Homo sapiens: one gene and its partners. The protein of the gene in region 6 purifies or fractionates together with the protein of the main gene of each other region. This does not show direct contact. Each region holds a gene or a part of one and is shown on either strand. Other genes may lie near its edges.

Region 1 (4,479 bases), on a different chromosome or scaffold from region 6:
CACCTTTTGAACTACCAAAGAGAAATTCCACCACCCTCCCCCATAGATCTAAGGCTAAATTCTGTAATTTCGGAGAAAGCAATGATAGGCTAAAGTCGCTGGTCATAGCTAACTTACCCTAATAGCCAGACTCCAGATATCATATGATGGTTCCCCACCTACTGCCCAGTAGAACCAACTTGCTCCTTTCCTTTATTCCGTCTCGGTGAATGGCTATCATATGGGTCCACCTGAGTTTTTAAAAAGGAATATTCTGTCTCTTCTTGATTGTGCGTTTATTCATTCATTACTTTATTCAACAAATATTTATTGAGTCCATCCTTTGTGCCAGGCATTGGGTTGAGGAGATCAAGATGAATAAGAATCTGAAATGCTTTGGGAAGAACATTTGTGTGTGTGTGTGTGTGTGTGTGTGTGTGTGTGTGTGTGTGTGTACAGTGTATATAAGCAAAAAATACACACACACACACCTCACATCAGATAGATAGATAGTAATGCTTGTATCCACACTATCTGTCATGACAGTAGGAACTGAGTATTAGAGTGGTGAGGGTCACTAAGAAGTTAGTGAGTCTGCTGTAAGACCCTAGAATTTCAGAGTAGAACATCATTTAATCCAACTAAGGGAAAGTGTTTTTCCCAAGGCCACACAATTAGGTAGTGACAGCATGTGGATCACAACCCAGCCTTTTGACTTTTGAATTTTCTTTATTGCTGCACCCAAATGCCTCACTAAAAACAGATGGCCTTCGTGGCTGGTTAGCTACATTGAACTTAAAAATAAGGACATGAAATTTGCGATTTGGTGATAATTTCCTGTTCTATCACTTGCATTTCTAATTATTAACAAACAAGCAGAATTTTTACTTATAAACTAGAGTATGACCTGACAGAGAAAGTAGGAACTTTAGGTTTAATAGAGAGGGATATGGGGGAAAGAGAAACCCAACCTTTACTGAGCAGCCAGGCACTATATGTGGATGCCTTGACCTCTGCTGTTACACTTAGTTCCTTTACCAGCCTTTTGAGGCCTGTGGTATTCTCATTTTACAGATGAAGAGACAGGGACACAGATTAACGACCCACGCAAAGTCATACGCTAGTGAGCCTAGGCAGGTCCTGCTCATCCTTTAGATGCCACTTTGGCCGCTTCTCCATTATGTACACACAGCACCATGACTCCCTTGGAGGTATTCATCACCGTGGGAACCTTTGCTCTTACTTTCATGATTGGATCCTGCTTCTGGCACTTGGTGGTGAGCTCCATGAGGGCAGGGGCAGTGTGTGCTGGGCTCACCTTTGTGTGCTTGTCACATAAGAAGCCACTCACCTTTTGTCAAGCAACTGATTATAAGAAGTAGAGCTGGGATTCAAACTCGGTTCCCTCTGTTACAAATAATCTGTATAAAATTATCTAAGATACTCTAAGATTGATTACATTCTATCCTTGCCTATCTAGTAGGTAGAGTAAGAAGAGGTCATTAGAAGTCATTGGGAAAATCAGGAATTAACTTGTTCATGTATCCATCCTTTTGTCATTTCTTTGGTTCTGTTTATTTTTCCCCCCAGTATCAATTGAGAATCTCTGACGGGAACAGCACTGATAGACTTGGAACCTAGAAAATGTGTCTGGTCAGGGATAGAAGAAGACAGCATTGTGCCACAGACTTGATTGTGAAGGCATGATCTGTTCTTTCACTAATTCTCAGTTTCATTTTGACCCTTCAGCAAATTCACAACCAAAATCAAGGTAGGGGAAGGGATGGCACACAGAGGAAAGTGCAGAAATATCATTTATATACCATGTATTCACTCTGAGTGGCCTAACTTTTTTGTTTTGTTTTTAACCCAATACATGTGTATTTTTAATTCCTCTGAAATTTGTGTTTTCTTAAGGATTTTTAGGTCTGTATTCATTCATAAAATAGATCTGTTCAAATGACCTTTTTCTATTCTTATTAGCACCACCAAATCAGTGTGTTTTTAATACTTAGATTCGCAAAATTTCTGGACATTTGGCAAAAGGCACAAGGCTGTCATGGAGCAGTTGCATGTCTTAGCAGTGAAAGGGACCAGGAGGTGGGAGGTGACGCTGGCAAGGCTTGTGCAGTGCCTCTACCGGCCTCTCTCTGGACCTCCCCTGCTTATCTCACACTTGACTGGGCCCTGCACTGCAGGGTGGGTAAAGGATAGAATTGCAAGCAGAAATTGTATTTGCTTTTGTTTAGTGAAGCCAAAAGCCTTAATATTATTTTTTGAGCTCAATGCAAATGGCAACTGACATGAGAGAGATTTTAAGAGCACCATAAGCATCTTTATAATCATGGGGGTGGAGGGCAATCCGGGAAGAGGGTGTGGGTGGGTGGGTGGCTGTGTGTACACATGCACTCTTTTTAAAGTTGTATTGTGTCTCTAACCTCTCCAAAAAAGACCAGAACCAATTAGAAAAAGGAAAAGGCCAACTTGACGCACAAAATTCTATATGCATGCCAAATATTGGAGTGAAAAACATGTAGCATTTGACTGAAAAGACACCAACCAACCATTAGATTTCTATGGTTGAACACTCTCAAGATCTTGCACTCCTGTATTTCATTTAAAAAATTACTCCCTGAAGTGCAAACTGACTTCAATTTTGAATAAAATTTAGCATTCAAATTTATAGCCACTTTGAAAACTGAGGGTTTATTTATATCATATGAACTTGAACAGATACTTAATTACAGCAACCCAGCAGCCCTTTGCACATGGAGAATCTGGATTTGGGAAAAAAAAAAACAAAAAAAAAAACTTCCCACGTAGGTTTTTCCACATTTTTCAGATGCTTTTGTAGCAGCCATCATTTATGGGAAATGGCATTAAAATCCTGCCGTAATGTAGTTTAAGTTTAAATTCAGTGCTTCCCAGAAGAGATTTTAGTGTATCCTATAAAGGCACTAAAAGGCTTATTTTTGTTTTTGTTTGTTTTTGTGGGGGGTGTTTTGTTCTCTTGAAAGTCTGGTTCTAATGAGAGAGATGTTGGTTCCTTGGAATGATCTTTGTGTGTTAACAACCTGTGCAAAGAACTCCTCTCTTGCTTGTTCTAGCGGGCAAAAGTCATCTTTGTTTGCGTGCAAGAAAAGGTCTGATTGAACTAGGGTGAGCCTTTCATTTTAAGCAGAGTTAAAGTCTGGGGTGTTTTTAATGTTTTAATCTCTGTTTAAGAGGTTTCTGTTATGAGAGGAAAATTGATAACATTTTTACCTCAGCAAACTGCCAGCAAACTGGCTCTGCTCTAATCCCACATTTATAGTGATTTATATTCTCCGTGGCAATGTGCTGTAACCTCAGAGTGATACCACTGCGGTGTAGATTGACTGCATTCCAAATGCTGGAATCACATACATAATGTTTTTACTTTTAAATAATATTCAGACACCAGAATAAATACCATATGTGCACTGATGCTGGTTACAATGGAACCTTGTCATTTCTTGTGAGGGAGAACATTCTTTGTTTCTGATTCCTGTTTGAAATAAGTATGCAAAAGATAAATATGTACATTGACAGCATTTTGAGAAGGCTCTGGTAGTTACACAGCTGAGGATGTAGCTATGATTCCTTGAAATGTATCATTTAAAACTAAAAATATTGCTGCATGTTGCCCCCATCCCTCACTACCATACATGAAGGCAAGGATTGTTATCTGACATTCCCAGAGTAGGGTAGAGCTTTTATATTTTATATCTACAGCAGGCTGTAGTAAGAGGACATCTGTTGAAGAAAAATTACCTCCGTGAGTACTGTTCATAGGAACAGTGAGACTAACATGCTGATGACATTGTAACAGGGAGAGTAACACACTTGATCATGGGAAAGGATGGATTGATTGGAAAGCCGTAATTCAGTGTGAGCCCTAATGTCATCTGATGCTACAAAAGCAGAATTTAGGTGGCCTAACATCATCAAAATACAGATAATTAATCTCTCCAGATCAATTTTCCCACATGATAAAAGTTAAGATTTAAACTTTTAATAAAGTTTAGAAACACCTCCCGAGTTATACATTTTTAGATTTTTGTTTTTATTCATCTTGATTGGAATTCAAATCCACTTAAACAGTATTTTTTAAATCAATTTGGTAGAATACCTTTCATATTTGTACATCTATACAAACTCCAACAAGTCGATCCACATTTGCTTCTTGGGGAAGCATTTTAATCCACGTTTGCATGATTACTATTTGTTTAGCTATATTGAATTAGTGCCCATAACATTTTAATAATATTTAGTAGATGATGAAACCCTGGGCATTGATACTGATGGCTTCCCAACCCCTCTGCACCTCTGTCCCCACCCAGTTTTGTGAGGTTTGCTCAGAATATATAGTGTGAGATGAATGTGTGAGTAATCCATCACAATTTATCTCTGACATTTCATCTGGCACATAGCTTGGTGGGGTAAGCCTTGCCTCCTTTGTAGAAGTGTTCCCTGTTATAA
Region 2 (3,607 bases), on a different chromosome or scaffold from region 6:
GGTGAGCTAGTCTTCCTTCCTATATTTTAATAAATGTAACCAAAGGCCATCTGGAGGTAGGGGAATGAGAGGTGAAGAAACAGAAAAATAGAGGTTATAAGGATGGAACTAAAAGTTGTCAGAAGAGGTATGAGCTGAAGAAAGAATTACTCTCTTTTGACCAATAAATACAATTGGGAAACACTGGAAAACCATGGCTTGATTACTGACAACCAACCTGCCTCTCTAAAGAGGGTGTATAAAGGGTGAAATACATTAGATTTGGCTCAGAAACAGAATGCGGTACTTATAAAGCAGAATAAAGGGGAGAACAGTAGTAGTTGATCTAACCCAGATTAGACATGAATACCAGCATATGTTTGCAGAGTCCCACAGTTTTGATTCCTCTTATAACTTTTTGAGGTGCAAAAGGAAGGTACCAGAACTGGAATCACATGTAATCAATCAGTGTGATTTTCCCCTCATACCACACAGCCATAGGCTGCAGTGTGGCTGCTGAAGTTCAATTGATATAAAGTAAATCAGGCTTCAAAAAGAATGGTGCTGTGGGTACACAAGGACATAAAGATGGGAACGATAGACACTGAGGACTGCGGCGGGGGGAGCGAGGGGAGCGGGGAGGGCAAGGGCTGAAAGACTATGTATTGGGTACTATGCTCACAACCTGGATGATGGGATCATTCATACCACAAACCTCAGTATCACACAATATACCCATGTAACAACCTGCACTCTGCACATGTACCCTTAGAATCTAAAATAAAAGTTGAAATTATTTTTTTAAAAAAAGGATGGCGCTGGTCATAGAAAAAGTCAAAGTAAACTAACAGTGTCATTTTCAAATGTTGCTGGAAGCACAATATTGGCCATAAATTAGTGAGGTTAAAATAGAAGAATCTGGCATTTTATAGTATAAGGAAAAGCTACAAACCTCAAGGTTGTTTTATTTAAACCAAATAATCTGAGCAAGACATATATACATTAAAAACAAATGAACACATTAAAATTTCACTATTTTACAATCTAAATTCTAGCAACATATACAAATACTGAGTGACTACAGTACATGCCGAGGTAAGATAAGTACATTCTGGGAGAATATCACTGACGCTCAAACCATTTTTATTTCCAATATGTATTTCAATACATGTTTGTTTCCACTTTTCCCAGTGCCACACACACACACACAAAAACAAAACAAAACAAAAAAAAACAGTCACAAGTTGGATTACATTAGAATTGGTGCCACAGTTGACTTTAAAAGCATTTTAATAACCACCCAACTCTTAGATTTTGCAGTTTAGGGACTTCAAGTTCAGAACCAAAAAGCAGAGAATCGTTTCATGTGACATGATGTTTCTATAGACCTCTTGCTCTCTAGGTGACAATGCAGAGCCAGGGCAAAGGTGTTTAAGCTTTGTCACCTTCCACAGCTTTGTGGCCACATTCATATTTAGATAAGCTCGGACTCTGCTCCCCTCTTCTGGAGATGGGGAGAGGCAAGTGTGTATGTGTTGTCATACTTACTGCATTAATTCTTCACTCGAACCGTTTACATCAGCGAATAAACCCATTGTTCAATGCAAAGTGCAAACAGTGAAACATGAACTTAAATAAACTGGACTAGACCCATCACATCCAACAGGATCTATTTAGATTTACAGCATTTAATAAAGTATAAGTCAGAATTCACAATATCTTAAACTGTGCTGTTTCCTAAGATCAAGTAACAGCCAAGTCAGTGTAATTTTATGAAACCTGTAATGGCCACATTTGTTGTGTCTCCGATGTATTTCTATAATTGCATTAACAGGAAAAAACTTAATCCAATATACCAGTGACTTTGAGTCTTAAATGTTGCAAGCAAAGGATAAAAATTCAAGGGAATTTTGTCAGATATGGTTACTTTCACATTTTCAGTTGTTACTTGATTGTCTCCAAAGCCGTATATGTATCAGACATATAAATGTAGTAAAAAAAAAAAAAAAAAAAATAGAAAACCTCTACTATAAAAACCAATGAACTAAAAAGAAGTATAAAGCAGAAAAACCATTTGAATCAGGCTCAGCTCTTCATCTGGAAAGTAAAGTTTATATAAAAGTAGTAAAAACTAGATATTTTATAAAAATTATTGGTAGTTCAAGGATAGCACAGTGGCAATATGAATCGAGTCTTAAAATATGCATCATTTCAGAAAACACTTGCCCCTCTTAAAAAAAAAAAAACCCAAAACTAAACAACAACAACAAAAACCTCCAGGAAAAAACAATCAGGTATACACAATTAACACAAGAATAGCAAACTTCTTTGGGAAAATGAAATAGTTACCAAAAACATCTCTCTTAAAGCTTCAAACAGGTATATTACTTGAGGAAAAGTATATTCTCTGTGTACTAAGGATGAATTAAAAAATCAACTGGTTTGCTCTCTTCCCACCTGAAAAGGGATGACTGCATTAATATATGTGCTTTCCACATCCATATATGTTTTAATAAAAGTCTACCATCTATGTCTTTTGTTTCAAACATTTTGAAACAAAATATGTATTGATTCTTCAATGAATGAAATCACGCCTCAAAGTTTGGAGAAGGAAAAGCCAGTGAAAATAAGGCCAAAAAACCATACCACAAAAGGACAGGAAGCCTGCAGAAATAAACAGTTCTCTTTCTGAAGCGATGTTTTAGAATACTGATATAATTCATGGAAACAAGAAAACAAATACTGTTCATCTTTATTCAAATTGAGTGAATTCTGGCAACATCATAATCTGGTGGCTCAGGCCAACAGAAGTGACTAGAACTTTATGGAAAAGTACTGTTCAACATTAAATCTACAAACAAAGGTTTATGGAAGAGGGAATGTCAAATTTATGTATTTTTATCATATGGTGAGCTGCTCATGTCGTCTTGACAGTCTGAAGGCTTTAAAAGATGGTTTTACATTGTTAGCTAATAAATTACAGATGATTTCTATTTTGCCATGTCTAAAACTAGCTCTGGGCAGGTATGAACAAGTGGTGACATGGAAGCTGCCAGGAGGTATCAAAAACAAGGCATGAATATTCATTTGCTAGTAAGCTATAATGTCTGTTCCCTAGGTGACATATAGGACTACTCAAACCTCTTACCACACAAAGTGCACGATCACGCAGTCCTGAAAAATACACGTTAGGTTTATATTTTGTGTAACAGTTTATGGAAAACTGAAATGAAAAATTATTTTTTCTGACTAAAAATATAAAATACCTTGAGACTCAAGAAAAATGTATATGTTTGTGAATGTATAAAACCAAAAAGGACAAATTCTGGTTACTTTTTAAAGAGGTAATTTATATTACTTCTGAGTGAATAATTTTGCCTTTCACTGTGATAAATATAAGTGGGTCATGTTTACAGTATTCCCTTAGAAGCCTTCAACTTTTCATAACTCTCCTAGGAAAAATCCCATTGCAAATAAAGTTGGGGGTGGGAGAAGAATCTCCTTTAAAGCTTTCAAATCATAAAGTTGTTCCTGTTTACACATTGAGGAGCATACTTAAAGGACATGAAGGGATCTGAATTCATGAGACTAAGGCAAGCATCACTCATCAGAAATACTCAAACATTTT
Region 3 (4,479 bases), on a different chromosome or scaffold from region 6:
TTCTCTTTTTTTGACACAGGGTCTTGCTCTATTGCCCAGGCTGGAGTGTAGTGACACGATCATGGCACACTGCAGCCTCAAACTCCTGGGCTCACGTGATCCTCCCGCCTCAGCCTCCCAAGTAGCTGGGACTACAGGAATGTGACACCACACCCAGCTAATTTTTTTGAATTTTAGTAGAGATGAGGTCTCGCTATGTTACCTAGGCTAGTCTTGAACTCCTGGACTCAAGCAATCCTCTTGCCTTAGCCTCCCAAAGTGCTGGGGTTACAGCCATCACACCCGGCCAAAAATTCTTATTACATCTGAGCAAGACGACTCAAGCCTCAGACAGTATCTCTCTTTTCTGAGACAGGAATCCTTACTTTGGACATGAACATAGTATTCATTCTCTTTAATGTTCAACTATTCTTGCTACAAGATAGGCAAAGTACTGATTTTAGTACTCAGCTATTTATTTGGTTTTTAAAAGTGTTGGGTGGGTGCGGTGGCTCATGCCTATAATCCCAGTACTTTGAGAGGTCAAGGTGAGTGGCTCACTTGAGCCCAGGAGTTCAAGACCAGCCTATACAACACGGCGAGACTCCATCTTTATAAAAACGCAAAAACGCAAAAAAAAAAAAAAAAAAAAAAAGCCAGGCATGGTAGTATATGCCTTTGGTCCCAGCTACTCGGTCAGCTGAAGTGTAAGGATCTCTTGAACCCAGGAGATGAAGGATACAGTGAGCTGTGATCTCGCTGCTGGACTCCAGCCTGGGCGACAGAATGAGACCCTGTCTCAAAAAAAAAAAAAAAAGTGTTTTGAAGATGAACAACGTAACAATATGATTCAAAAACAGAATGAGATTATTTCTAGCCACTCCTCTGTGCTGAGTGGGAGATCGGTCCTAAACAGCTCAAACTCATCAGTGATATGAACAGATATATGAAAGTGGAGTAGTCACACCATTTTAATCACTAAATGCAAAAGCTCTGAAAAAGAGAAGGCAACAGAGGAGATGGGGTGAGGGATACATTATTTTTGGTGCCACAATCCCATGACTCAAAGTGGGCATATCATCCTTAAAGGCAGCAGAGAAAAAAATATAAAGCAATCAAGGTCAGTACTATGACTGTCTTCAAAGGCCAGGGAAGACAAGTGCCTTGGAAGGCTCATCAGCTGAGACAATTTGATGTCGGTTAAATGTCAAATTAAAGATACAGAGCCTCAATATTCTCTAAAAGTTGATTAACTTTTTTCAAGCTTCCATTGCCAGGATGCAAGGTGAGAGGCTTTGAAAAGTCACTACTTAAGCATCTGAAGAAATCCACAGTGGAAAAAGTCTAACAAGGATATGTGTATCTACTGTTGTATGTACCATCCTACTTATGCAGCTTGCTGGACAGCCAACTTCTTTTTCTTCTGGACTTAATTCTTGAGCAAGAGCCAAGTAAAATAATTATGCCCAAATCTAGTAAGCCTGGGGATAAACTAATCAGTATATCTGAAGAGCACACTAAATTTTATGAAGAAAAGTAACCTAATTACAGTATTTCACTTAACTATGTTTGTGAAATTTCTACTTGCCCTCCAAACTCCACAAGATGGTAGCCTAGAAACAGATAAAACAAAGTGCACTTTATATACATAAAACCCCAAAGGGTTAACAGTATCAGTGGGGAGATCTGGGAGAAATGGCCAAAGAAAAAGATTCTAGGAACATAAATGCTTACAGAACATGGACTGGGTCCATGAGATATATACAAGCATATAACTAGTAAGAAAATGTAAATAATTATTTGTTAAACCTACCATTAAGATCAATCTCTAAATCTAGTGAGGTTCAAGAGAGGCCATGAGGAATCGATGTGAAGAAAAAGGAGACTATCAATGATAAAACAGGAAGCTTTTAAGCAAATAATGTGAAGTGAATCACGTTCTCTCCTGTTCCCCTCCTCAACCCAGCAGCAATTTAAAGGGATTTTCAAAACACCTAATGAAACTAAACTGCCAAGACTGCTCAGACAGGAAGAATCATAATGAAAGTTGGAGGAAAGTGCTTTTTCATCCCAGTGTGGCCGATTTTTAAAGTGTATTTTGTGAAAACCACAAATAGAAGAGTTTAGCTAATAAACACTTCACTGCACAGGTTAGTGAAAACATTTCAATTTCTCCTTCCCCAACACTCCTCTAAAACAATACAGAATCTATCACTTTCGTGCCAGGTCCAGGATTGTTAAAGTTAAAGCCTACCAAGATTACCAAAATGCTTTTAGGCTATGAGATTGCAACACAGGTATCTGGGGTTTCAGTTGCAGAACACATGTACAATCAAGGCAGCCAAGGGTCATGACAGCCTGCAGTGACTTTAATAAGCATAGCCCAAAGGAGTCTAAAACTAGGCTTAGAAAACATCATTAAGGAGGCAGAAAAAGCAGTCAAATGAAACCTCTGGAGATCAGATGTAGACAAGGGTCTGAAAAAGGAAATTGGGAAGTTGAGAAGAATGCAAAATTTAATCACTTTAAAAAGTCACTTTTGAGGAGCCCCAAGGACCAGAGAATTTTTCTCTGAAATAAAAATGGGAAATAATAACATATACACCAGTGCTGAGTTCTTAGTCCTAGTTTTAAGGCATTAAGCTGCAAAAATATGACAGTCAGGTACAATACTGCACTGCCTAAGCTTCACACAGCACTACAAGCAGAATCCAGTACATGAAGACAGGAAGCAGTCTTAAATACACAGTGAAAGGGTACTTCCTTCAGCCACCAGTAACACAGATATAAAATCATTCCCAGAAGCTTAAAACATATACCTTACTTAAAATTCGTATTATATTTACTTGCATAAATAACCATTTAACTGTAGCGATTTGGAATATATGTATACTTTAAACATAAATGTTTCTGCCTCCTTCTTCTACTTACCACATCTTATCTCCTCATTTTTATATTATAAAGTCAGTAATTCTCTGAGGGAAGGGAGTGGAAAGTATGGCAGGGTGAGAGGTAGGGGTAAACCATACAGAATCCCCTTAAGGCTTTTAAAAACTACATAGTACCCTAACCTCACCTCACCTGGAAAATCACTGCCTGCAATGAGATATTACTATCGGGAGTGTCTGGTGCACATGTGTCTAGGCAGACACAAGGAGAGAACCCAGCCCAGAAAACCAAAGGACCTTAGAAATATAAGAGTTAGGTACTTAATAACTTATGTTCATAATTTTTAAAGTACTTTCATATCTATCTCATTTGAGATAGAAAAGACTCCCTCATATAGTGGCAACTGTCTACTTTATCATAAAATAGCACAGAGCAAAATACAGCTGTTAATGTGTCAGATGAACCACTAAAACAGTAAGCTAAAATTTAGCACAACAGAAATATTTTTACTTGAACAGAACTTAAAGTTCTTTGGAAACTCTAAACCACTGTACAAATTTAAGATGGTATTACTACGGCCTACTAGACTGTAAACTCCTTGAAGACAATGAGCCATGTGTTATCCTGTATCCTCCGCAATTCCCTGAACAACGTAGGCACTTCATGAATGAAATGGACTAGCTTATATTCATTTATTAATTTACTCACTCAACATTTATTGAACACTGAATGTCGACTCTGTCAGGCTCTGGGCTGGGTCAGATTTTTTTAAAACTACATCGAACTTTAGCCCCTAGTAAGATGAAAAGATCACTATTCCTATTTCCTTTCTCCTATTTTTAATTATTAACTGGACTAAAATATTTCTATAGCATGTTTCACTTTTCAAATGATGTTTTATATGTATAAATGCAGATTACATTAACATAATGTCTAAAATTAATTTTCCTTGCATCTCACCCCGAAACAGAATTCCAAGACAGCCATGATACTCACAATAAATGATATCATTTGACAGTCACCTCAGTAACAGTTGTTGGACTGCAGCCCATGATTTAAAAGTGAGTCCACAACAGGATTTTTTAAAGCAAGACCAAACAGCAACTGACCCTTTGTTTTGGCTACTCAACTTTTGTTTACAGTTGCACCAAATCTTACAGTATTTCCTGCCTCCTTAAAAAATTAACCACACGTTAAACTGTGATAGCAACAACATGGTAAATAGTATCTGTAAACTACACTAGGATTTATAAAGCATTTCACAAACTGTACATATCTCCTTTAGTCCTCAAAACTCATTTGAAGGTGGGAGAACTGGGGCTCAAAGCTGTGGATGCCCTGTCTGCCTAAAGCAGCAGAGCTGGGATTTTGAGTCTGATCCTGGGTCTCCTGATTCCTGCAGTCCAGTGCGCTTTTCACCACAGCTGCCTCCTTCCTATGCCAAGGCTCAGAAAGTTGTACAGACTGAGAACATGAAAATAGTAAGTCCATGAAAGGTTTGGCTATGAAACAGTAGACAGTGGTTATCAAAACTGTCAACACGGCCCCAGAAAAAAAACAAGGCTCTCTGTTTAATGAATCCAAAATTGGCCACATGTTGTTGAGAAACAA
Region 4 (4,479 bases), on a different chromosome or scaffold from region 6:
GTTTAAGACCAGCCTAGGCGACATAGGGAGGCCTCATCTCTAAAAACTATAATAAATTAGCCGGGTGTGGTGGCATGTGCCTGTGGGCCTAGCTACTTAGGAGGCTGAGGTCAGAGGATCACTTGAGCCTGGATGGTAGAGGCTGTAGTGAGCCATGATTGCACCACTGCACCCCAGTCTGGGCAACAGAGTAAGACCCTGTCTCAAAGAAACAAACAGAAAAACTGCTGCTATATACTCTTCACCTGGGTTCCTCTAATGTTAACATCCTACATAACCATGGTGCATTTATCAAGCTAAGAAATTAGTATTGGTACGATGCTTCAACCAAGCTTCAAACTGCTTTAATATTTTACCAGTTTTTCTAGTATTCTTTTTCCATTCTGTTATCCAAACCTTGATATTGCATTGCTTTAGTTGTCTTCTTTGTCTCTCCCAATGTGTGGCAGTTTCTTGGTCTTTTCTTATCTTTTATAACCTTGACACAAGTATTTTGTAGAATGTTCTTCAGTTTAGGTTTGTCTGATGTTTTCTCATGATTAGATTGGGGTTATGGATTTTGGGGGAGAGTACTGCAAAGGTGAAGTGCCCCTATTATTTCATACAGGAGGTGCATGATATCAAATAATTTATCACTTGTGAGCACTCTGTTACGGTGGTTTCTGCTAGGTTTGTCCACTGTAAAGTTACTATTTTTCCTTTCCCATAGTCCGTGCACTAGAAACAGGTTGCTAAGTGTAGCCCACACTTAAAGGGATGGAAATTAAACTCCACTTCCTGGAGGGAGAAGTATAAAAGAATTTGTGGACATATATTAAAACCACCACAGTAATTGGTAAATATTTTGAGAGAGCTACTTTGAGGCTTTGCCAGTATCCTGTTTCTGCCCACTAATTTTAGCATTCATTAGTGGATCTTGCCTGCAGCAATTATTGCTGTGGCTTCTGAAGGTACTTTTTTAAATTTTCCTCATTCTTTCTACATTTATTAATTAGAATTCTTCTATAAGGAAGGTTTTCCCTTCTATCTAATCATTTATCTCAGTTCAAATTCATAGATATTTATTTTATTCTTAGTGTTAGAATTAAATGCTATCATTATTTTGTTGCTCAAATTATTCCAGTTTTGGCCCTTGGGATCTCTTTTAGGTCTACTTCTGTGTCTTTTTGGCATATTTCTATCCTTTTTTTATGCGTATGTACATGCACACTTCTTTATTCTCTGACACTACCACATGCTTCAGGTTCATCTTGTTTTTTTTTCCTACCTCAGCCCTAGAATCAATTATTTCTCTAAGGAACCTTGGTTCCTTTCATTGGAGGATGATATTTTGAAGCCAAGATCTGGATGCTAAGTGTGCTCATTGCTGTGGAGTATCATTGCTCCTAGACTTTCTCAGTGGAAAGAACTAGGAAATGCATGTATGTATACTAATCCACGTATCCATGTACAATTATGTAAAAATCTGTATTTCTGTATATAAAAATATAAATATACTGATTGTCTGTGACTCTAACTGGATATGTTTTGATACAGATAGATTTACTGATGGATTGGTTGTAGAATGTGAAAAGAAAAGAGTAATGGATCACTCCAAGGTTTTTGACTTGAGCAACTGGAAGGATAGAGTTGTCATTAATAGAAATGAGGAAGACTTGAGGACGGTGCAGAGCAGGTTTTTGGGGAGAGTTTAGGAGTTCTGTTCTAGACTGGTTAAGTTTTTGAGATGTCTAATAGACATGCTAAGTAATAGAGATATTAAGTCAGCAGTTGAACATGGGAATCTAGAGTTCAGAGAAGAATGGTCCAGGTTACATTTGGGACTTGTCAGTATAGATTAGATCACCTGAGGAGTGAGGGTAGCTAGAGAAGAGAAGAAATTTAAGGACTGGCCCATGGGGCATTCCAGTCAGAGAGATAAGGAGGAGCAGTTCCACATAATGATAAGGGCTGAGGTGTGGTTATAGGGTGGATTTCATATCATTAATAAACACTTAATACCTATTATTTGCAAGATACCAAGTTATGTTTGGGGTTAACATCACTCCCTCCATAAATTTATAAGACAAATTACAGACTTAAAAAGAGAATAGCAGTAGAAGGCCACATACCTGATAAAGATATAAAGTACTAGGGGCTGGGTGTGGTGGCTCATGCCTGTAATCTCAGCTCTTTTGGAGGATGAGGCGGGAGGATCACTTGAGGCCAGGAATTTGAGACCAGCCTGGGTAGTGAGACCCACCCCCAACCCCCATCTTTACAAAAAGTAAAAAAGTATTAGCTGGGTGTGCTGGCCCATGCCTGTTTTAGCTACTTAAGTGGCTGAGGCAGGAGGATTACTTGAGTCCAGAAGTTCAAGGCTGCAGTGAGCTATGATCGCACCACTGCTCTCTAGCCTAGGTGACATCGCAAGACTGTATTTAAAAAAAAAGGTATGAAGTACTAATGAAGCTTATTAGAGAATGTGGACATGAGAAACTATGAACTCAAATATGTGTCAGCTATATTTAAACACCGATGTAAGCATGTGTGCGTCAAGAAACTTGTCAAGGCTTTATGTACACACTAGTAATTATCAACCAGTAGAAGTTTCTCCATATGTTAACATTAGTTTCGGAGGTTGTTTCTGTTCTTACTTCCTTTCCATTATTAGGTCTTGGGTTGTTAATTGTGCCTGTAGTCATTGGCTATCAATTAAGCCACTCAGTGAACTGATGAGGAGTGTTTCTGCTGCCCTCGACTTTTTAATTTTTGGCTCTCTGCTACCTTTTCACAATCAATAGGATTTAACTTCAGACTGCATACAATCAAATGTTTCCATTTACAAGCAGGGTTGTAAATCAAGCAGGGTTGGCCTTACCATCTGCCGTGAATTTGCCCCACCTTTTTTTTTTTTTAACTATTTCTTTCACATGTGGTCTTAGACATTCACATTTATCATCTGGTTATTAAAGTCAAACCCAAAATAACAATTTTAGAATTTTAAAAATAATTACAACATGTAGCCTGGTAAACCAAAGTTTTAGTAAAACATTTTAATTTCAACCCCTTTGCATTAAAAATAGGTAGGCTTTCATTGCCAGCTGATAAGAGGTGGTAGTATGGCATGAGGCAGGCAAATAGCACCTATCTAGTAATTATTTAAGTGTCAGTCACTCTTCAGGAACTACAAGAAAAATAACAGGTGTATCTACTTTGTAGGATAGGGGGCAGGTAATTGCAGGATTCCATTCTTATTTCTACCTCCGAATAGTCGACAAAGCTATTATCCAGGTTTATGGACCAGTGTGTTGTATTTATTAGTTGTGAGAAATCTGAGCATATTTATATGCTGAGTGGAAAGAGCCAATGCATTGAGTGCAAAGACTGTATCTTATTAGCACAGTTCCTAACAAGTAGTGGATATTCAAATATTTGTTGAATGAAAGATTTCAATAAGGTACTTTACCCTTATAAAATTTAAGACATGAAGATTTATTTAGCTTGTTCAAGAAAGCTGAAGATATTAAAAATTTTCATTGTTTAAGTCAGAGTTAGTGTAAAACAAAATAAATCTGTAAGGTAACATCCTCATTTTAGGCCAAGCCAAACAAATCATACCACTTTGTAAAAACATGATCACAGACGGGTGCGATGGCTCACACCTGTAATCCCAGCATTTTGGGAGGCCAAGGCAGGCAGATCACCTGAGGTCGAGAGTTCGAGACCAGCCTGACCCACATGGAGAAAGCCCATCTGTACTAAAAATACAAAATTAGCTGGGCGTGGTGGCGCATGCCTGTAATCCCGGGAGGCTGAGGTAGGAGAATCACTTGGGAGGCTGAGGAGCTACTCAGGAGGCTGAGGCAGGAGAATAACTTGAACCTGGGAGGCAGAGGTTCCAGTGAGCCGAGATCATGGTGAGCCAAGATCGTGCCATTGCACTCCAGCCTGGGCAAAAAGAGCGAAACTCTGTCTAAAAAAAAAAAAAACACACACACACACCAAAAAACAAAACAAAACAAAAAAACCACGATTACTGTCTTTCAAGTAGCTCATAACCTGCCCTCCAAGAATAGTCAAGAATTCTAGTTCAGAAGTCACACTGCCTGGATTTGAATTTACCAGCTCAGCCACTTCCTGGCCATGTGACTTTATGTTAGTTTCTTAACTGTGCTTCAGTTTCCTCATTTGTAAAATAAGGATAATACTTGTACTTACTTTATGGGGTTGTGAGGTGAAATTAGAATATATGTCATGCATATATACAAGTGTTCAGTTTTTAACTGTTATTCTAAAAATGCTAAGAGGCTAGTATCTTAAGGTTTTTTATTTTCTCAAAATTGCATATGCTGAGTGTTAAAGGAAAACAAATCCCTCTGTGAACAAGAAAAAACACTGACAGAAAGTATACCACTATACTCATAATGATATGTTGAGACAGTGAGTAATGGGTTTTCTGCTTTTTGCCATCTCCATTTTTTCTTTTATTTGTTGAAC
Region 5 (4,479 bases), on a different chromosome or scaffold from region 6:
GAATTTCCATGGCCTTATATCCCTGTTTTCTAAAGTTTTACCCTCAACTGGATTTTACCTTCTCATTTTCACAGTTCCTGAAATGTACAAATGTATCCTTACAGCTGTAAATTTACATAAAATAATCTAGGTAAGGGACACGTATTGCACAGTTGTTATCTAGATTTGAACATCTATAGTGTTGCAGTCAATTTTATGAGAATATTCATGTCTGTAAACAATCACCATTCTCCTAATTGACAAGCAAGTTAGTAACCATTTTCAACATGAACCACAAATGAGTAACTTCCTATAATAGTGCTACCAGTCCACATTTTCTAATTCATGTCACCAGGGCATATACAAATAACATAATTAATAAAGTAGAACATTTGCAACTCTAAAAGGAAGGTAAGTGAAAAGCTGGATCAAGACACAATAGTCAAGGCTCAAATAGACGCTGTTTTAGATAAAACTAGTTAGAACAAGAGATGACATGTGAAAAGAGACCTGAAAGGAGAGAGAGGCTGAGCCGTGATGCCATCTGCAGAGGAAGAAGCAAGGACAAAGGTCCAAAGGCAGAATCAAGCTTGGTGGTTTGAAGAACATCCCGAGGGCTGGTATGGCTGAGGCAGAGCACACCACACCACACAAGAAAGAAAGTGGTGTCTGAGGCTGGAGGAGAAGACAGGTGCCAGGTTCTAGATCTTACAGGACCTTGTAGGCCATAAGGAAAACTCCAGATTTTAATCTAAGTATGATGGGAAACTACTGAAGATTTTCTGATGTTCTTTGTTTCCCTCCTATCCCAAAGGGAGTGACATGACCAGCTGTGCTTTTTAAGAGATTACTTTGGCTGCTCTGGAGATAACAGATCTAGGGGACAAAAGTAGAAGCAAGGAGACCAGGTAGGAAGCCACTGCATAGGTTCTGCAAAGAGATGAAGACAGTATTGACTGGAATTACAGAAATGGAGGTGGAAAGACATGGCTGGATTCAGGAAACATTCTGGAAGTAGGGCTGACAAGTTATTACTACGTTGGGTTTGAGATATGAGAAAGAGTCAAGAAGATACCAAAATTTTGGACCTGGGCAATTTTGTGAATGGGGGAAGATCAGGTGTGGTGGGGTAGAAAATCAAGAGTTTAGTTTAGGACATGATGTATTTGTGATGACAACTAAATGGTGATGTTCAGTAGGCAGTTGGATATATGAGTCTGAAGTTCAGGAAGAAGTTGAAACTGCACGTAAGATTTGAGAGTCTTTAGAATATAAATGGTACTTTATGCCCCGAGACTGCAAAAGATCATCTGGTGAACATATGTACAGAGGGAAGAAAAGGGGCACACCAACACCTAAGACTCATCAAGAAAAGGTGAATTCAGCAGAAGAAAATGAGAAGTCAGGGCCAGGGACTGAGAAGAAAAACCAGGAATACGTGTTGGCTCTTCTGTATGCTAATGCATGTAAGAGCTATTACAGGTGTAAAAAGTTGCTTAGTTGCACACATTCTCTCTCCCTTACTCAGTGTTTCCTCAGTGTATACTATGTGTCAGCCACTCTTTTAGGTAAGCATGTAAGAAAATAGCTGAGTAAGATATGAAGACAAATGCTGGGCTGCTAAGAACTTAAGATTAGTGAGAACTGAGCATAGGCTCTGGGTATCTTGACAAGAGTTATAGGGATGAAGGATGAATTGGAGGGGGCTTAAAAAAGGAAGAGAGAGGAGACTCCACGAGCACAGATAACTCTTTTAGGGTGTCTGTCTGTAAAAGAGACACACACACACACACACACACACACACACACAGACATTCCCCTTGTTTTCACTTCTGCTATCAAGGAGTACAGCTGAGACGCAGGTTTTAGCTTACACCCTGCTCCTTAACATTTTGGAATGCAAAGTTGTTCTAATTTTTGACGTGAGCAGCTCGTGAGCCCTCTTATTTATTCTTCACTATCAGAGCGCCTTCTGTTTACTTTCACCAGAGTGACTTCTAAACTGCAACAACTGCTGAACCCCACAGCTGGTTCTAATCCCTCCTCAACAGTGCAGCTGCCATTTCTCATCTACCACGCCTCTGTTTTTTCTGATTATTTTCTTCTGCTTATCTTTTTCATTGTCTCTTGTTGCCCCATACTTTTTGCTTTTTGATGCCTGCGCATTAAAGTTGACCTTTTAGATATCTAAACTGGTACAAAGACAGCGAGGATGATTTCCCTTGCATAACACAACATGACTACAGTAGGTAAGCAGGAATGATCTCTGAAATTATGGCTCTTCTCATCTACTGTGCACCTTTTCTGAGGGCCTACGGGCTGATTCAATAATGCGTGACTCAAAGCTTTAAAGACATGGAAGTCTGAGGCTTCTTTTAGGCTTAGTCCCCAGATGACTAAAATATTACTGAATACTATAAGGATTCATTGAGAAATGTCTAGTGTGGCATTTACCTAAGTAGGTAGGCCCAACACAGTATGGTAGATCCTTTCATAAAGGAATTCAGGATGCTATGGAAGCACATAGAACAGCTTATTCAAATTTGGGCATACCAGAAGCTTCACTGAGAAAATGATGTTTATATTATGACGAGTATGACTCAGCTAGACTCGAGTGTTGGGGGAAGAACAACATATGCAAAGGCCCAGAAGAAGTGAGAACACGGCATATTTGGGGATGCTCACAAAAGCTAAGTCAGTATGGCTGTGTGTGTTACTCTAGGGTTAGGGTGGGGTACTCAAGGATGACCCGAGATAAGGCTAGAGAGGAAGGGCCAGGTCACATAAGATATGTTCGAGAATCTGTCTCCCTCCCTGCCACCAAAACCTTGTCAATAGAAAGAGTTTGGACCATATCCTGGGATATGCACCAAACTATTAAAGGTAGCTTTCCCTGGGGAGTGAGAGTGCATAGAGGTGGAGGGATTTCACTTTATTAAATATTCCCATGCTGGCATGGTGGATGTTTATTTTTACAATGCCATGCATTATTTCTGAATTCAATTTTTTTTTTTTTTTTGAGGCAGAGTCTCACTCTGTCACGCAAGCTGGAGTACAGTGGCACTATCTTGGGTCACTACAACCTCCACCTCCCGGGCTCAAGCGATTCTCCCACCTCAGCCTCCCGAGTAGCTTTGATTACAGGTGCGCACCACCATGCCCGGCTAATTTTTTGGTATTTTAGTAGAGATGGGGTTTTACCATGTTGCCCAGGATGGTTTCAAAATTTTTAATTAAATAAAACAAAGGAGAAGAACAGGAAGCTGCGGCAATAATAAGGTGGCCTGAATTAGAGTAATGATAGTAGCTATGGGAAGAAGTAAAATATAATTAGTAAAACAAAGATCTTGGTGATGGCTAAGGGAGACTAAGGAATTAAAGACAACTAGATTTCTGACGTGAACTAGTCCCAGCTACTCGGGAGGCTGAGGCAGAAAAATTGCTTGAACCTGGGAGGCGGAGGTTGTAGTGAGCCGAGATTGCGCCACTGCACTACAGCCTGGCGACAGAGCAAGACTCCATCTCAAAAAAAAAAAAAGGTCTTAAATCTACAACTCTGGAGAAAAAAACTAAGTTACAAAAGGAATGCAGATACTCTCAGCATACATATGGTAACTGATGCTCAGGTGTATGTACAGAGTTTAAAAAAACTGGAACAGAAGCTGGAAGGATGGCAATATCTAAAACTGAATTTCTTAGACTATGTGTGGTCTACCTGCATTATACTCTCCCAAGGAGTTTGATAAAAATGTAGAATCCTTCGCTTTACCACCAACCTACTGAATCAGATACTCTGGGTGTCTTGGAAATCTGCATTTTAAGCAAGCAACTCCCAATTCCCCAATTATTTTTGTACAAGGTAAAGTTTGAGAACTACTTATCTAAAGGGTGAGTATGAAAAAGAGCAAGGGCAAAGAAACAAAAACAAAAACAACAAAGTTAAGAAGGAGATGAGCTGGCCAGGCATGGCGGCTCATGCCTGTAATCCCAGCACTTTGGGAGGCCAAGGCAGGTGATTGCTTCAGCTCAGGAGATCAAGATCAGCCTGGGTGACATGGCAAAACCCCGTCTCTACAAAAAATACAAAAATTAGCTGGGTGTGGTGGCACTTGCCTGTAGTCCCAGCTACATGGGAGGCTGAGGCGGGAGGATCACTTGAGCCCAAGAGTTCAAGTTTACAATGAGCCATAATCATGCCACTGAATTCCAGCCTGAGCAACATGGTACAACCCTATCTCTACAAAAAATAAAAAAAAACTAACCAGGTGTGGTGGTATGCACTTGTAGTTCCAGGTACTAGGGAGGTTGTGGTGGGAAGATCACTTGAGCCTAGGAGTTCAAGGTCACGGTGAGCTATGACGGTGCCACTGCACTCTAGCCTGGGTGACAGAGTGACCTGTCTTTAAAAAATAAAAAACATTATGGCCGGGCGTGGTGGGTTCACGCCTGTAATCCCAGCACTTTGGGAGGCCGAGGCAGGCAGATCACCTGAGGTCAGGA
Region 6 (5,051 bases):
AAACAAAACAAAACAACCTAAGAGAAAAATCAAAGTCAGTTTTCTAGAATAAGAAATAATAATCAGTAAATTATTGTACACTTGGAAAGGATTAAAACCTTAAAATTATTCATTAGAAATGGATTAACTACCTGTTACTTAATATAAAAAGGATTTACAATGTTATTCACAATGATATGCAATACTTGAAAATTGAAAATAGGCCTGGCCGCCTGTAATCCCAGCACTTTGGGAGGCTGAGGGGAGTGCATCTCTTGAGCTCAGAAGTTAAAGGCCAGCCTAAGAAATATGGTGACGATCCGTCTCTACAAAAAATACAAGAAGTAGCCGGGCATGGTGGCGCACGCCTGTAGTCCCAGCTACTTGGAGGCGGAGGTGGGCTGGTCTCTTGAGCCCAGGAGGCAGAGGTTGCAGTGAGCTGAGATCCTGCCACTGACCTCTAGTCTGGGTGACTAAGACTCTGTATCAAAAAAAAGAAAAGAAAAGAAAAAAAAAAGGCCGGGCGCAGTGGCTCACACCGGTAATCACAGCACTTTGGGAGGCCGTGGCGGGTGGAACATGAGGTCAAGAGTTTAAAACCTGCCCGGCCAACGTGGTGAAACCCCGTCTCTACTAAAGATAAAAAAAAAAAAAATTTAGCCGAGCGTGGTGGTGGGCGCCTGTAATGCCAGCTACTCGGGAGGCTGATGCAGGAGAATTGCTTGAACCCGAGAGGCGGAGGGTGCAGTGAGCTGAGATCACACCATTGCACTCCAGCCAGGGCGACAGAATGAGACTCGGTCTCAAAAAAAAAAAAAAAATTGGGGGAGAAAAGAAAAAATTAAAAATACAATTAGTCGTATTGCATAATAACGTAACTAGTTTAAGACTAAATAATATTGATATGGTTACATAAAACTAAAAAAGTACATGCAAATGTAAATAGCATTCTTACTAAAAATTAAATCCAAAGCTATTTCGAAAGGTGGAGTTTTCTTCACTATTCTTCCCAAGACCTTTTGCCTGGATATTAGGGATAACCGGTTTTAGGAACTTGAATTCATTTGTCTCGGAACCTCCCGTCAGACACACCTCGTACTGGTAGCTCTGGGAAAGGGTCCCGGTGCCGCTCACGTCCACCAGATGCCCTGGAAAGGGGCCCTTAGGCACCGAGCAGCTTCCCACCGAGGCCGCCCTGCTCCTCCTGCACAGCCGCACCGCCACGAACAGGAGCACCGAGAAGAGGAAGAGCGAAGACACCGAGGCCAACGCCACCACCAAGTAGACGGTGAGCGAGTCGGCCTGGGCCTGGGCCGGTGCCGCCTCAGGGAGCGGCAGGTAGGGCTGGGAGAAGCCGTCCACCAGGAGCACTTGCAGCGTGGCGGTGGCCGAGCGCGGAGGCTCGCCATTGTCCTTGACCAGCACCACCAGCCTGTGCTTGGCCGCGTCGCGCTCGCTCAGCAGCCTGGCGGTGCGCACCTCGCCATTGTGCGCCCACACGCCGAATAGCCCGGGCTCCGTGGCCTTGAGCAGCTGGTACGACAGCCAGGCGTTCTGGCCCGAGTCGCCGTCCACCGCCACCACCTTGGTCACCAGGTAGCCCGGCTCGGCCGCCCGGGGCACCAGCTCGGTGCAGGGCGCGGAGCCGTTCTGCAGCGGGTACAGCACGAAGGGCGAGTTGTCGTTGGCGTCCAGCACCAGCACGCGCACCAGCGCCTCGCTGCTCAAAGCCGGGGAGCCGCGGTCTGTGGCGCCCACGCGGAAGTCGAAAGCCTGCAGGGCCTCGTAGTCCAGCGACCTGAGGGCGAACAGGTGGCCGTTGTCTGTGTTGATGGAGACCAGGGAGGCGAGGGGCAGGTGCAGGTCCTGGGGCGGGAGTAGCGAGTAGTTGACCTGGGCGTTGGTGCCTGAGTCTCTGTCTGTAGCGCTGACACTGCCGATGTGCAGGGCGGGGCTGTTGTTCTCGCGGACGAACAGGGTGTAGGAGGTTTGGGTGAAGGTGGGGGCGTTGTCATTGACGTCAGAGACCAACACAGTTGTGTTGTGCTCGGTTTTCAGCCTGGGTATCCCCAAGTCGGTGACGGTGATGGTGATATTGTACTCGGCTGTGCTCTCTCTGTCCAGTGGTCTCTCTGTTTCCAACGTGTAGTAATTCTCAACTGAAGATTTTAGCACGAATGGGAGGTCTTCCGGAATGGAACAAACAATTCTTCCGTTGTCCCCAGAGTCTATATCTTGGATACTAAAAACCATAACCACGGTCTCTGGCGTATTTTCTGGGATTGGACTGGTAATTGATGACACAGTGATTTCAGGAGCATTGTCATTTACATCTATCACGTGAATTATGACTGTAGATTTTCCAAAAAGTCCTCCCCCATCTGTGGCTTGAATGATTATTGAGTATGACTCAATCGTTTCAAAATCCAGAGGTGCTCTTAAAGTAATTTCTCCAGACTTTTGATTAATTTCAAATGTCTTGCGAATATCTTCTGAGGCATGGGAAAAGGTATAGCATATTTCACCATTTGTTCCAGAGTCTAAATCCCAAGCTGAGACAATCAAAATCAGCGAGCCAAGGATGCTATTCTCCCGAATCTTCACCTCATAAAAAGCCTGCTCAAATTCAGGGGAGTTGTCATTAATGTCCACAACCACCACCCTGACCAAGGCAGTTCCAGACCTGGGAGGGGACCCACCATCCAGAGCAGAGAGGATGAAACTGAGCTCCGGGAGCTCTTCATAATCCAGCGCCTTGTCCAGAACTAACTCGGGGTATTTCCTATTGTCTGGAATGACTCTCATTTTAATGTGAAAATGAGAGTTGGGGCTTATTGTGTAGCTTTTTACAGCATTGATTCCTACATCTAAATCCTTCGCACTTTCTAGTAAGAACACAGCACCAACGGGACTGTTCTCTGGGATTTCTAGGAGCATTTGTTTTTCCGAGAAGATGGGAGAGTGATCATTTATATCCCTGACCTGAAGCTCAATTTGTAAAAACTGCGTGGGGTTTTGCATTAACACCTGCAAATGTAGCACGCAAGGCTCGATGGAACCGCAGAGCTCCTCCCTGTCTAGTGTTTCACTTAAGAGCAAATCCCCAGTGTTTATGTCCAGCTGCAAACGCTGTTTCTTATCATTAGAGACCACCCGAGCCCCCCGTGAGGACAGTTCTCTCACCTTCAGCCCCAGGTCCTTTGCCAGATTGCCTACAAAACTCCCGCTCTGCATTTCTTCTGCCACAGAAAAGCTCCAGGTTTCAGAGCCCGCCTGAGACATTCCGAGCAAAACAAAGAGAAGCAGGACTTGCCTTATCTGCTGAGTGCGTGTCCCTTGGTTCTCCATAGTTCCTTTCTTGTAGGCTTCTTGAAGAAAGGCTTCAGCTCTGCGGAACGCGTCTCTGACTTGTCCACCAAATCCTCTGTGGTCTAAGGATTTTAACCCTGTTGAATGGTTTCCAGGTCACCCTCTTGAAGGCTTGTTGTTTCTGTCTTCTGATTCTCTGTGTGCACTGGATATCAGTGTTCACAACGCCATCCAGTGAATATATTTTTCACGATGTTATCCTGCAGCGCCACCAAGTGTCTCCATAGATTTTCACAGTTTGGTGAAAGCTACCTAAATTCCATTCACTTATATGTCCTCCGGAAACAAATATTGTTTTATTCATTGTGTTCAAGTGATTACAAATATATTGCACGTTCTGTAATAATTATTTCATATTCTCTTTAGTTTGATATGCTGTTAATATTCATCTTAAAGCATTTATCTTTCCCCCTTCTCCATACAACCAAACGTGCTTAGTTGTGGTGAATACAGAAATACAAGATGTGATTCCTGGCTCCCAGTGGTTTGTAATCTTTCTGAGAAGACTGGAAACATAAAACAACCATAATATTTTTAAGCTGTACAAAATTCTATCACTACTTGACTTTCCTTAGGTGGTAATGAAAAGGCAAACTATACATGGGTCATTTTAGAAGTCCTCTCAGAGGATATGAAACTGGATTAACCATGAGATGGGACATACTTTGATAGTTATGATAGCACAAGAAGGCATTTATATAGATTTCCTTGGTAGCAAGGAATTGTGAACTGCTAGAAAGTAAAGTAAGATATTGGGAGTAGAACACATTATGAGAATCCTTGATTTAGTTCCAGCTTCTCAAAAAATAATAAATACACAAGCACAAGCATGTTAGTTTCATTTAAAGCAGGCTTATTTCTAAGACTGCCCTCCCTCAGTTTCCCAAGATTTATTCCAGCAACATCTATGGCTATCTGCTTTGTTTTTCAGCTCAAGAAGACAGAATGAGAGATATTTTCTTCCTCAATAATAGAACAAAATCTTAGCCTTCATTCTGATTAGACCAACTGAGAGCACTTCAGCCTGTTACTGAAGAAATCAGTGTCTCAAGATGTATAGGATTAAAGGTAGAGATTATAGTCCCAGAATCTAAAGACTCCATCTTTGACCCTTTGTTTTAATCCAGGCAGAGATTGCCCCTTAAACTTGAGGTGGTTTCAGTCCTAGCCAAAGTGCATGGCATAATGAGGGAGATAGTTGGAATAGGTGCTTGGAAACTACCAATGGTATCCACTGTTAGACATCTCAAAGTACTCTCAATAATGGAGGACATCTAAGAAGTCTGCTTTTAAAAATTCTAATTTCAAATTACATTCACAAAAATGTGAACTAGATACATGGTTGAAAAATTATCAGTGCAGAAGAGTAGAAATTGAATAGTATGTGGATTGACTATACAATTATCCTTCCTTCTTCTTAACCCCTCTCTAAAATGACAGAAAAGTAATAAAAGGTATGAATTCACAAAGACTAAGAATACATAAGTAAATACACAAATTATTTGATGATAGAAAGCAGATGAAAGAGCAATTGACAATAGTTCCAAGAAATGTCTAAAATAAAGTTCCTTCATTGGAGATACTAAAAATAAACTACTGGGTTTTCCCTACACAATCCTAGTAGGTACCAGACTTGGAGGAACCAGGTGTATAAGAAGGCTGAAGTCAAGTAAGGGCTTAAAAAAGAAGTTATTAGTTGAAAG
Region 7 (4,479 bases), on a different chromosome or scaffold from region 6:
TATCATTGAACTTTGTAACTAAAAAGCATTGTAAAAATGTTATTCTGAATTGCTCTTATAGTATATACTGCTAAGCAACTTCTCTGTTAGGCTTGCTTGACACTCCAAAACAAATAAGGTACCCCTACTATGTGCACAGCACCCATACTTCTCCAATTATCTCCCAAACATGCTGTCTTCAATGTAACTGCTGCTCATTTGTCTGTATGCTCCACTAAACTGTAAATAAACTGTAAATCCTATGAGGGCTCCCCGTCTTTTTTTTTTTTTTTTTTGAGACAGGGTCTCCCTCTGTCGCCTAGGCTGGACTACAGTGGTGCAGTCACAGCTCACTACAGCCTGAACCTCCCAGGTTCAAGTGATCCTCCCACCTTAGCCTCCCAAGTAGCTGGGACTACAGGTACACACCACCAAACCCAGCTAATTTTTTTAAAAAATTTTTTTGTAGAGACAGGGTCTTGCCATGTTGCCCATGCTGGTCTCCAACTCCTGGGCTCAAGTGATCCTCCCACCTCAGTCTCCAAAACAAAATGCTGGGATTACAGGTGTGAGCCACCATGCCCAGCCTCCCATGTTGTCTTGTTCACTGTCATATTCTGAATGACTCACTCATATTAGAAACAAGCACTCAATAAACAAACAAGTAAATCTTGACAGAAGAAAAGTTCTTCCTTGCAGACTTTTGCTAATGAAAGTCCTGATAAAGAAGATACTAAATAGCAACCTCTGAGTGCTAAATACTGACTGGTAAGAACAGAAAGAGAAAATTAAATACTAGAATATAACCACATTTATAATTACATAATTGGAAAAGAATAACCATGCTATCAACTAAGGGAATATGACTCACCATCATATTTTGCTAGGACTGCCTGAACATCTGGATAGGCCTGTAATTCTAAAAGTGATTCTAAGAGATTTTCATGGATGTTCAACATGGTAAGAGGAGGAAATTCTTTCATCAACTGTATATTAAAAGGAAAAGAAAGATTAAAATCATAACAAAGGAACTCAATAGAGCTGAGCCAGATTCATTAAGTAGAAATTCTTGTTTCTTACCATAGCTGTGAAGAAGACCTAACCCTTAAGAAAGGTACGTATATTAAATAAATACCTTGTTCTAAAAACTACCAATTAAAATACAATGATTCTGCATTAAAATAACTGGCAACTTAACTAAATTTTTAGTTTCTGGAGGAATAAATGTAATAGTCCCATCATCAATTTACTTACATCTCTCATTATTTTTACTGCTTCTCTTATTCTTCCTAATTTTCTTGCACACATTGCCAATCTTCTTTTAATATATACCAGTACATTGGTATCTCTCCCTATTTAGAAAAACAAAAAAATGATACAACTATCACTTTTGTATTGTGGGCTGCTATTTCATTAACATATCCATTAATTTTATTTGCTTCCCTTGGAAGAGTCAATTAAAATTAAATTGTGTCAGAATGGAAGAATATTAATGATGTCTACATTTGGATGATAAATATTGAACAGGAGTGTTCTCTATTTTTGCGCATGTTTCAAGTTTTCTGTATTAAAACTTAAAATACACATTTAATTATTTTTGCCTCTAATAGTAACTTAAGTACAGTATATATAATTCGTGTATGATTGACAAGTTTATTTTACCATTAGCAAAAAAGAAATACATACATTATAGTAAGATATAACATTAACCTAGTATTTAAGTTTGTGCATAAATGATCTACTATTCTGATACTCTCTATTGTTTTAAATGAAAAACAAAAAATGTCCAAAACAAAATTTCCATGGCTAATGTAAACTTTTCTTAACAGTGAGTAGTTGACAAACTATAAAACTACTTCTAGAAAGAGCTAACAAATATTTCTGTAACTAGCTCATAACCGTATTTGAGATTATTCAAAGACAAATGGCATGACATTTTTAAAGATGTAGTTTCATTAGTTCCAGGCTACAAAATTATATATTCCCACAGATTTGTGTTATAAAAACTGTGCATTAATGAAACATACCATATATATCTGTATTTAGCTTAGGGAGAAAAACATTATCCAAATTTTAATTTACACATAAAAAAAGATTTAGAACTTAGCTGCCAGTAGATAATGCATTATATAAACATATTTCAATTTATTACCCACTATTTGCCAAAATCATGAAACTAAAACCCTCTGGCCATAAAAATAGCAGGAAGCAGCATCATTGCTGATTCTAACATCTTTGGTAAAAAAAAATCTCAATCATAACTGGTAGAGCATATCTAAGAACAGAAAGGACTTCTGTTGCTATGGCTCATCTGATCTCAAGCACATCATGGAGAAAAATCAACCAAAGAAAGAATCAATGCCAAGTATGAGGTTGGATTTTGGGCTAAGAATCAGATGGTGTGAAAGGGGCCACTCCCTAGCACTATATGCAGATACACAGTCTGAAGAACCAACCAAATAATGTACCTCTACTGTTGCTTAGAGTAAGGGTGAGGATAAAGATAACAGCTGCTTATCATCACTAGAAGGCTCTCCTGAATGCTGAAAGTTTTTGAGTTATGTTTTTACAATGACCAGCCCAATTCTCACATGAAATAAATTACTGTTAAGTCTCAGAGCAGCACATCTTCTCTCAATAACCTGAGCAGATCTATTCCCTTCCACAAGCATTCTCTGGCTAATACACATTTCTGTCTTGCTGGCTTGTAGGTATTGTGAATAGATTAGTTATTTCCAGTGAAAATTAACTAACCTGTAAGTATTAAGTTTTTTATTATTGTTGTTTGTGTTAAGACACAAGCAAATTACAGATGCTAAAAGACAGTAATAACCAGTTCAAACTTGCTTACTCAGTTGAGCTTCATGCTGAGGACTTTGGTGCTGGCACTGCTGTGACTGCCTATAAATTGTTTCTCCTGCCTTGAGTGCCTGTTTAAATAACCTTTCAGCATCTACAATAGTTGTTGCTTCTTCCTCAGCCAGTAGAACATATGCAGTGGCACAGCTATGAAGAAAGCAAGAAGGCAATTTTAAATAAAATGGTAAAGCAAGTGTTTTCTCTTGGTTATGTCCCTTTGCTCTATGTCATATTTCCTTACCTACACTTTTTCCATCTTTAGAAAAAAAAAAACCTTCGTTCAATATTTTACCTTAATAGGGGCACATTGGTATATTCTTTATGTCTGATTCCACAATTCTTCCACTTTCTTATCTTTCCCTTCTCTTTGTTTTTTAAAAAAAAAAAACAAAATTTTTAAACTTCTATCTCATTCTCTGACCCATTGTCCTGTGTTTTCTTTTTGTGAAAGGGGGGAGAAAAGAAGATTTATAAAGAATTATCTGAATTGTATACCCTCTACTGGTCATACCTGCTTTTTTTTTTGAGATGGAATTTTGCTTTTGTCACCCAGGCTGGAGTGCAATGGCCCAATCTTGGCTCACTGAAACCTGGGCCTCCTGGGTTCAAGCAATTCTCCTGCCTCAGCCTCCCGAGTAGCTGGGATTACAGGCATGCAGCACCACGCCCGGCTAATTTTTGTATTTTTAGTAGAGATGGGGTTTCAACATGTTGGCTAGGCTGGTCTAGAACTCCTGATCTCAGGTGATCCACCTGCCTCAGCTTTCCAAAGTGCTGGGATTACAGGCGTGAGCCACCATGCCCGGTTGATCATACCTGCTTTTAGTCGCTATATAATTTATGACATCCATTTCATGGGGCAGGTATGGGGAGGGTGAAGATTGGGAAGATAGTCCCTTGGCCAACTAGGCACTTTTAACATCTGACTCAGAAACATAGTCCAGGACTAGACATTTTCCCCAAATCTGAGTACTCCCCTCTGCATGCTGTCCCATCCACACATGGACTTATCCACAATATTATGCAGTATAACTTCCCTTGTTCTGAATTCAGGTCCTTCCTCCTACACTCCTATTCTCATTCCTCAAAACTATGCTTATGCCAAGTTTTCTTTTCTTCACCCCACTAAAACACAGAGGCTTTTCTTTGTATCTTTTAAGTCAACACCTGGCTAATAAACTAATGCTTGTTTTGGGGCCACAAAGAGAAACAAAATGTTGTTATTCCATTCCCAGAAATAACAAATCCATCTCTTCTACAGACAATATCCTAGTTGTGATTATCTAAGACGGCACTGTCCAGTATTCTAGGCATTAGCCACATGTGGTTATTGAGCACTTGAAATGTGATGCGTCTGAATTGAGATGTGATGCAAGTGTAAAAATGCACAACGAATTTTGAAGACTTAGAAGAATGTAAAGTTCTTCATTAACAGATTTTAGAAAAGTACTGACTATATGTTAAAATAGTTTAATATTTTGGGCCGGGCGCGGTGGCTCATGCCTGTAATCCCAGCACTTTGGGAGGCCGAGGCGGGCGGATCACGAGGTCAGGAGATCGAGACCACGGTGAAACCCTGTCTCTACTAAAAAAAATACAAAAAATTAGCTGGGCGCAGTGGCGGGTGCCTGTAGTCCTAGC

The links.
Region 1: the proteins of PCDHB11 (region 6) and ST7 purify together in Homo sapiens (affinity purification with mass spectrometry; 2 studies listed by BioGRID and IntAct, with this or other methods). This does not show direct contact.
Region 2: the proteins of PCDHB11 (region 6) and DCBLD2 purify together in Homo sapiens (affinity purification with mass spectrometry; 2 studies listed by BioGRID and IntAct, with this or other methods). This does not show direct contact.
Region 3: the proteins of PCDHB11 (region 6) and MACO1 purify together in Homo sapiens (affinity purification with mass spectrometry; 2 studies listed by BioGRID and IntAct, with this or other methods). This does not show direct contact.
Region 4: the proteins of PCDHB11 (region 6) and PEAK1 purify together in Homo sapiens (affinity purification with mass spectrometry; 2 studies listed by BioGRID and IntAct, with this or other methods). This does not show direct contact.
Region 5: the proteins of PCDHB11 (region 6) and TTC17 purify together in Homo sapiens (affinity purification with mass spectrometry; 2 studies listed by BioGRID and IntAct, with this or other methods). This does not show direct contact.
Region 7: the proteins of PCDHB11 (region 6) and ST7L purify together in Homo sapiens (affinity purification with mass spectrometry; 2 studies listed by BioGRID and IntAct, with this or other methods). This does not show direct contact.

The regions. Positions count from the first base shown.
Region 1 is NC_000007.14:117,214,522-117,219,000, forward strand, and holds part of ST7 (suppressor of tumorigenicity 7 protein), read left to right. Parts: intron 1-4,479. UniProt on the Homo sapiens protein: May act as a tumor suppressor.
Region 2 is NC_000003.12:98,795,064-98,798,670, forward strand, and holds the end of DCBLD2 (discoidin, CUB and LCCL domain-containing protein 2 precursor), read right to left. Parts: 3' UTR 878-3,607; downstream 1-877.
Region 3 is NC_000001.11:25,433,454-25,437,932, reverse strand, and holds part of MACO1 (macoilin), read right to left. Parts: intron 1-4,479. UniProt on the Homo sapiens protein: Plays a role in the regulation of neuronal activity.
Region 4 is NC_000015.10:77,409,568-77,414,046, reverse strand, and holds part of PEAK1 (inactive tyrosine-protein kinase PEAK1), read left to right. Parts: intron 1-4,479. UniProt on the Homo sapiens protein: Probable catalytically inactive kinase. Scaffolding protein that regulates the cytoskeleton to control cell spreading and migration by modulating focal adhesion dynamics. Acts as a scaffold for mediating EGFR signaling.
Region 5 is NC_000011.10:43,365,025-43,369,503, reverse strand, and holds part of TTC17 (tetratricopeptide repeat protein 17 isoform 1 precursor), read right to left. Parts: intron 1-4,479. UniProt on the Homo sapiens protein: Plays a role in primary ciliogenesis by modulating actin polymerization.
Region 6 is NC_000005.10:141,198,051-141,203,101, reverse strand, and holds the start of PCDHB11 (protocadherin beta-11 precursor), read right to left. Parts: upstream 3,476-5,051; 5' UTR 3,328-3,475; coding exon 934-3,327; 3' UTR 1-933. UniProt on the Homo sapiens protein: Potential calcium-dependent cell-adhesion protein. May be involved in the establishment and maintenance of specific neuronal connections in the brain.
Region 7 is NC_000001.11:112,581,142-112,585,620, forward strand, and holds part of ST7L (suppressor of tumorigenicity 7 protein-like), read right to left. Parts: intron 2,986-4,479; coding exon 2,831-2,985; intron 1,332-2,830; coding exon 1,234-1,331; intron 966-1,233; coding exon 851-965; intron 1-850.